2 separate regions of the Homo sapiens genome follow, and region 1 is reported to be linked to region 2. The links are microRNA targets in miRTarBase. Many come from high-throughput screens and were not tested one by one. Region 2 holds a microRNA gene; the other region holds the end of a gene's coding sequence.
The links. The annotated mature microRNA hsa-miR-211-5p reads UUCCCUUUGUCAUCCUUCGCCU and lies in region 2 at 1,557-1,578, opposite strand. An mRNA with a match to its seed (bases 2 to 7 or 8) in the 3' UTR can be bound and repressed. Matches are read on the target gene's strand: a 7mer-m8 pairs with bases 2 to 8, a 7mer-A1 pairs with bases 2 to 7 and ends in A, and an 8mer does both.

Region 1 (4,000 bases), not on the chromosome of region 2:
CACAGCTTTAAATATAGTGAACAGGAGAGACTATTTGAATGACATACCAACAACACTAGGGTTGAATTAGTAGCTGGTTCAGCCTGGGACAATCTAATTTATTCCATTCTTATTGTCTTAAAAACTGGCTTCATTTTGTTTCATATTGCAAACTAATTAAATGTAATTTTAAAATCTGTTTCCTTTCAGGTCAAGTGAAAAGTGCCAAATCTGTAACAAGCCATGACCAGAAGAGAAGTCAAGATGATACCTCCAACTGAACATACGTTCTGTAAAAGGCCACATTTTCTTTTAGTATCTGAAAGGCAAACCTATTCATGCCATTTGAAATCGAGAAAACAGATGTGGGTTTCTTTAAGTATTTAAGTACAACATTACATCGCCCTTGTTTTGTTTGACCTGTTCAGCATGCTTATGTCCGGACTCTGGCCTCGCCTCTGCTCCTCCAAGCACAGCCCCATGTGAGTTTCACGTGCTCCTTCAGGAAAGCACTTGGGTATAAATCATTCGTGAAGACCATGTGGAGGCTTTAAGAACTACTCAGAGAATCTAATAATTTTCTGTGTAATTGAGGCATTCCATATAAAAGGACATATTTGGCTATTTCCAGAGAAAAAATTTGTTCTCCCTGCCTAAAAAGGAAATCTTATGGAATGACACTTGGAGCAAGGAAATATTAAGACCAGCTTGGATTAGGAGCCTCTGGGTACAACTATCACTTTTTATGTCCAAAATTAAATTTCACCTGTGAGGTGGGGTATACCTCTGAGTAAAACCCCTCTTTATCTTTGACCTCCTTCTATCTGTAAATTAATAAACACAAATCTGTATAGTTTTATACTTAGAAGAGTTCTCCTATTCTGTAAGGCTGGCAATACAGATATTGTAACTGGACTGAAGACCATTTCCCCTCCCATTCTGTTTTATATTTCCTAGGTTTTAAGTACGATAGTTGGTTTCATATTGGTGGTTTGGAAAGCCTTTTTTCTAATTTATTTAATCAGGCGCCTCAACCTTCTCTTACGTTGTGACTTTATGGAAAAGTTTTATAGAAAAGAAGATGGTTTTTAAAAAGCACTTATTGTTCGTTCTTATGGCTTTCTCTTCTTTGTCCTGTTCTGAAAGCTAGTTTTCCCTTATGGGGAGAAGGAAAAGGAATGGGTAATTCAGTAATACTTTGTCAGTTGACATTTATTTAACCATGGTTTTGAGATAACCCTGTTTTAAATGTCTCCCAAAGTTTTTAGTTTTTTATCCTTTTAATGTATGAGCAATTCAGTTTCAATTTTTTAAAGCAAAAGAACACTGCAATAACTTTCAGCCACCTTTTTGGCCGACCCAGTGGGTGTTTATGGAGCAGTACAAAGAAGACCTGTGTTTGCTCCTTTTTTTTTTTTACCCTCCTTCTCCCTTCTCCCTTTTCCCTTCCCTTCCCCTTCTCCTTCCTCTCCCTTCCTCTCCCTTCCCCTCCCTTCCCCTCCCTTCCCCTCCCTTCCTCTCCCTTCCTCTCCCCTCCCCTCCCTTCCTCTCCCCTCCCCTCCCTTCCTCTCCCCTCCCCTCCCCCTCCTCTTCTCTCTCCTCCTCCTCTTCCCTCTCCAACTCCTTCTTCTTCCTCTCTTATCTCTCTCTCTCTCTCCACCCCCGCAACCTTCTTGACAGGGTCTGCCTCTCCTGCCCAGGCTGGAATGCAGTGGAGTTATCATGATCATAGCTCACTGTAACCTGTAACTCCTGCACTCAAGTGATCCTCCCACCATGCTTGGGTAATTGAAAAAATAAACATTTGCAGGCTGGGTGCTGGCTCACACCTGTAATCCAAGAACTTTGGGAGGCCAAGGCAGGCGGATCACCTGAGGTCAGCGGTTTGAGACAAGCCTGGCCAACATGGTGAAACCCTGTCTCTACTAAAAATACAAAAATTTAGCTGTATGTGGTGGCACGTGCCTGTAATCCCAGTGACTTGGGAGGCTGAGGCAGGAGAATCACCTGAGCCCGGGAGGTGGAGGTTGCAGTGAGCCGAGATCGCACCACTGCATTCCAGCCTGGGTGACAGAGTGAGACTCCATCTCAAAAAATAATAATAAAAACAAATAAAAATTTGCAGAGATAGAGTCTTGCTACGTTTCCCAGGCTGGTCTTTGAGTTCCTGGCCTCTAGCATTCCTCCTGACTTGGCCTCCCAAAGTCCTGGGATTACAGCTGTGAACCACTATGCCTAGCCCATTTTCTTAATACAGTATATTGTGCGAAGACCGGTGTCCTTAAGGACTGCAATAATTTAGGAAAAGTCCAGGTGCCATTTTTGTCCTTTCTACTCTAACGCTACATTTTCTGAGCTTGGATTTTGAATACAACATTATTTTCCAGGAGTGTGTTCCAGATTAGGGAGGGATTCCTGGATTCTTACTTCAAAGATTTCTAAATTAGACCAAGGCATTTCTGGAGACCCCTTAGTATAAAATAAACCTATTTTCCCTCTTTATTAATCTTTCAATCCTTATCCTCAAACTTTTTATAGCTTTTGATATATTTGCTGATGCTATTTTTAAACTCCTTGTGTTGGTACTTTTATGTCAATTATGATTCCTCTACTCTCTTAAAACTGCTTTTCTAACTCCTTCACCAGTTCCTCTTCTTCCTCTTGCCCCCAGTTGTGAGAATTTCTCAAAATTCAATCCTAACCTTTGGTAAAGCAATCTGTAATTCTCTATTCCATGACCTTCCCTGTCACCAGTATTATGAAGAATGAGTCTTTCCCTCTTTAGGGCACCCATAGTGCTAATAGCCTCATACTGTATTCTACTTAATTGTTCACAGGTTTGTCCTTCTGTGTGAATTGTAAGCTTTTTGAGGGTAGGGATTTTGTTTTGTTCTTTTTTTATACCTAAAAAGTCCATAAAACAGTAAGTTAGTAAATAACTGAATGAATTATCTTTTAGTAATACCTTATACATAGAACTCATTACCTCTTCATTAATTTATAGAGCTTGTGCACCTTTATAAAAATGACTCCCAACACTTATCTCCATATCTTGCCCCATTTTAACTCCTACTCCTCTAGCAGATAAGCCACACATACATCCAACATCTCTACGCCTAATTTCTCCTCTGACCTTCTATTTTCTAAGCCTTCACATTGAATGTCATTTTACTTTCTGGCATGTGAACCAAGTGATTACAACAGATTCCTGGATCTCATGTCAAAGATTCCTTTGATGTGAGAATCTGAACATTTATTTATATCTATAGATTTACAATTTTAGTCCATTTTGAGAGTTATAGTATCTCTTGTTACATATTGTTACATTGAATTATAGATCTATTCATAGGCAACTTTAAATGCCCGTAGGCTTTGAGTTTGAGCTGTTACATAGGTAGCTGCATGGCTTTTTCTGAACATCCACAAAGTAATTACTATTCAAAGTGCATACTAATAAATCAATGAAGCCTCCACATTATTTGGGAAGTAGTCAATCAAAGGCTAAATTCAATGTTATGATAACTTTTAGGCAGTAGTTCTTTAGACTTCTGTATTTAATTGAACAGAAAAAATGTAAAAAAAGGGGAGGAGATTGATAGGACATCATTAATAAAACAACTACTATCTACTATCACTATCATTTAACAAAAGACATTTTAACACCAGAAAAGGGAAGAGATCTCAGTGTAGGGCTCTACCCTTTAAGTTAAATAAATTAAGTTTTATTATAGACCTTTATGTTGTATTTATTTTTCTTATTTTGTCATATATGATGGAACTTTTGTCATGAATCAGAACTGGCCTGTGGTCCAGCCTTTGAGAACTACTGCTCTGGACTAAGTAGATTGCTATTTAGATTAACATGATGCCCCCAGATTGTAAAGGACTGACACTTGCCCCCATGTTCAATCTAATATGTGGTAGATTGTATTTTCCAGGATGGCCACATCTCCCTTCCCACATGCTCTTCTTACAATATGGTCATGACATTCCTCACGTAGAGAGATGTGTCTCTGTTCTT
Region 2 (4,178 bases):
CCTCAACCTCCCTCTCAGCTCAGGCAATCCTCCCACCTCAGCCTCCTGAGTAGCTGGGACTATGGGCACATGCCACCACACCTGGCTAATTTTTGGTAGAGATGAAGTCTTGCCATGTTGCCCAGGCTGGTCTCAAACACCTGGGCTCAAGTGATCCACCTGCCTTGGCCTCCCAAAGTGCTAGGATTACAGGTGTAAGCCACTGTGCCCAGCCCAGTTATCATTCTTGCATTCTGTCACATATTATGGCCTCATTGGGAAAACCAGGACCTCAAAGTCTGAAACTTTCTGACTCACATATGGTTAAACTCCTGAATAACCCACCCACCTGATGTTGGGGCTACTTCAAGGTGACCACTGAGAAATATTGGAAGGTATTCCTGGCTGGAAAAATATCCCCCTGGCTGTCCTAGCCTATGGTCTGAAATTCCCACCCTGATGGCTGTCCCTGAAGAATAAGATGATGAAAGGGGATCTGGACCAGCCAGGGAAATTGCAGTTCAATTCCTGGCTTCTCCCTTATGACACTGGGCCAATCACCAAATCACCAAGAGCCTTAGACAGCCATTTGTAAAAGGTGAACAATCACAGTGCTTCCTTTAACTCCTGCAGTTGTAAAAATATCAGAATATGTGTTTGGCTAGCAAATAATTTTGTAAACGTTAAGTAGCATACAAATGAGGTACACTGTTCTTGTTGACGTTTCTGTCTTCAGTGGCTGGAATAAAGTGCAGATCTTGGACGCAGCCACTTGGACCACTAGTGGCCCATCAGTTAATGACCTGTTCCCAGAGTCCTCCCTCTGTCTCTATCAGTTAATAGGACTCTTCAAGAACACAGTGGGTACCAACTAACTTTTGGTGGCAGAACCTGCAGGCATGGCTCTGGGAAGCAAGAGGTGGCAGGAAGATTCCAGGAAGTTGGGATTCTGGAATGGGAAGGAAATGGGAGTGGAGGCACATTTGCCTACTTCCTAATTTTATGCCACACTGGCCATGACAGATCACACTCTGAGCCTATTTCACCAGCTGTCCATTAGTTGTGATGGGAATTAGTTGATCGATATTAACTAAAGGCAAGTGGAAGTATCGTTGGTCTCAGCTCTGAAGGGCTTCAGATAAAAATCTGCCAGCATTGGTTAAGAGAAGATTGGAGAATTTCAAATGAGCCATTTCAGAGTTTCTAATTTGCTTCCATGAGGTGTTTCTACAGTCAGGGACTCTTACATATGTTGAATAACTCTGCTGTGTCCACCAGAGTAATTACAGCTAAGTTCATTTCAGCAGACATGCATTGAGGGTCTGCTTTGTGCAAAGCCCTGACCAGGAGATATTGGAAAAATGAACTAAGATATCCTGGACTCCGCCTTTGAGATTTCCAACCCAAGCAAGGATTGATATTTTCAATCTTTAGGAATATGGTGGCCAAATCACCTTCTTTTCGAGCAACAGAGTAGAACAGGTTCTTCTTGGCTTAGGCTGGAGTCCTCGAAGCTCCGTGCTGTGGGAAGTGACAACTGAGCACCCCTTTGCTGTCCCTGCCCTGCTCAGAGCCCTAGGCGAAGGATGACAAAGGGAAGCCCACAAGTCACATGGCCAGGTGAAATGGGGTGTTGTAAAAACTTACAAGTCCAGAAAAATTAGAGATGTGAGAACAAAAAACATTCAGTCATCGACCAATGTATTCTTCGAGATCTGATTCTCGGAAATCTACAACTTTTCCTAGTAGGCCATCCCCATTCTACCCACTCTGCAGCATCACAGTCCCATACATGATGATTCCCAATGACCATTCGCCAGGACTAGATGGTCTCCCACAAAAATCTTGCCAGTAATGGGAAAAACAAACTGCTCTTTCAGATCATTTAACAATTGTTTGACGTTAAGAATTACTGGAGTATAAACATGCTCCAAGAGATTATACCAGTTATTGTAATTCTAACCAGTTGTTATCATTGTTTCTTCTGGTTGAGGTTTGCGTCTTTCTCTCTAGTTCGACCTCAGCTTTCGTCTGACAGTGACAGCTCCCCCTCAGGACCAGCAAGGATGATGCCCCTTCAGGAGCAGATGGCTCCTGCAGCCCTCTCCAGATATGTCCCCACCTGGCCATCTTAGTCTACATGAAAGGCCCAGCATTACAGAGATATTTAATAATCACATAATACTTATCAGCAAATAGAAAGAATCCTACTAAATCTTTGAGAAATTGTTTTCCTGTTAAAACACTTAAAAAATAACAACTAATTACAGGGAACAAGAACCACTGGGCAACAGGGTGGGCAAGGCCATCACCATGGCGAGCACTGAGGGTTATTTCGTGCTAACTTGTGAACCTGGGGCAAAGCATCCCCATGTAGCCCAGTGAATGTGATTTGGTAGGTGGCTAAGGTAAGACATCTAGGTGAGTCATTTTCTGTTGACCTAACAAGAAGCAAGGTTAATCTTCTAATCCCCTTGGGCAATCAATCTCCTTCTCAGCCTTGTTTCCACTGTGATGGCATCAGCCCAGGAGGACTGCGTGCCTTTGCCAGCACTTACTTGTGTTGATCTTCTGCAGGGAGATGTGCTTTTCCAGCAGCCTTCGCAGCTTCACCTCGGCGCCATACTTGCCCAGGGTGCCATTGTCAGCCAGGATGAAGTGGGTGTGGGAGTTGTTGAGCACAGAGAGCTTACTTAGAGGGTTGGACATGGTCTGGTACACTCTTGTTACCTGACAAAGTGCACAGCGCAAATCAGACCTGCAGGACTTGGATGTTAAGACCAACAAGGGAAGCAAGCACAATACATATGTGTGGAGTGACTGCACTAAAACTTATTCTCACATCTCTACCCTGCCTTTTGAAGGTTTTATTTTTGCCAATTGTTACATTAAAATAGAAAGAAAGTTAATTGTTTTAGATAATGACAACCTAGCAATTGCACCCCTGGCATTTATCACAGAGAAATGAAAACCTATGTTAACCTCAAATCCTGCACTGGAATGTTTATGGCTACTTTACTTGTAACAGCCAAACTGTTCCTCAACAGACAAATGGTTAAAGAAACTGGTGCCTCCATATCATGGGATGTCAGCCAGCAGTAAAAAGGAATGAAGACCAATACATATGGCAACCTGGACGCGTGTTCAGAGAACTATGTGGAGTGAAAAAAAAGCCAATCCCCAAAGGTTACATTACTGTATGATTCCATTTACAGAACCTTCTTGAAATGCGGGGTGGTGCAGATTAGTTGTTTCCAGGGGTTAAGGAAGAGGTGGGGGTAGGAAGGAGTGAGGTATATGTATATGAAAGGGCAACAGGAGGGATCCTCGTGTTGATGGAAACATTCTGCACCTTGACCTTATCAATGACAGTATCCGGGTTGTGATCTTGCATTATGGTTTTGCAAGATGTTACCATTGGAGGAATGGGAAAGGCTGCAAGGGAGCTCTCTTATTATTCTTACAACTGCATCTGAATCAACGGTTACCTCAAAATCAATCATTAATTTTAAAAAACTGCCAACATTTGCAGAGAAAACACTTACATCCTTTCCAACCAGGTCTTCCTTATTCTCCACGATGCCCCATGGAGCAATTCCTATAGCACAAACCCGGCCTCTGGACTTGGAGGAGTGGTCTTTCAAGGCATCCCCTACGTGGCTGATAACACCTGTGAGCAGCCATTGGTCATATTTTAGGCTCTTTTACTTCCCAGCACACCATCATTCATGAAATTTAGGGACACTTGCCCTGAGTCCCTACATTCCCTACAGATCAGGGGTGAGACACACTCATCTTTATCATTAAAACAAAGTACACTGAAAGTCTGAGCTCATGATAACGAGCAATCTTGCATTAACTCTAGAAACGGGAAAACAAAAACAGAAACCAAAGCAACTGTGTAGGGATTTCCTTTACAGATGTCTAAGGCCTAAAGCTGGAAATAACTGGAGTCTTTTTGGCATTCCTTGGCTGCCTTCAGTGAAAATTGAGAGCCATACTGCCTGGTATGTTCCTTAATGTCTTTGTGCCTCAGTTTCCTGTCCTATAACAGGAAAAGGATTGTCGAGAGGTCTAATGAAGATGATGCTTGTACAGGGCTCAGTTCAAGGAATATTGCATGTCATGGGTGACCCAGAGATGTTGACCATTATGACAATCATTACTATATTTGCTGTTTTTTTTTAAGAGTCATATCA

Region 1: the mRNA of ANKRD45 is a reported target of hsa-miR-211-5p. The part of its 3' UTR that is shown has no 7-base or 8-base seed match.

Annotation. Positions count from the first base shown.
Region 1 is chr1:173,606,405-173,610,404 of GRCh38, reverse strand. It overlaps ANKRD45 (ankyrin repeat domain 45), which reads left to right. Exons shown (of 6, transcript NM_198493.3): 6 at 190-2,069. The coding sequence ends at 260. Among named protein-coding and RNA genes, the nearest start is that of SLC9C2, 5.3 kb to the right of the region's middle.
Region 2 is chr15:31,063,539-31,067,716 of GRCh38, forward strand. It overlaps MIR211 (microRNA 211), which reads right to left and starts at 1,603; the gene lies at 1,494-1,603. TRPM1 (transient receptor potential cation channel subfamily M member 1) reads right to left here. Exons shown (of 28, transcript NM_001252024.2): 6 at 3,525-3,649; 7 at 2,538-2,709.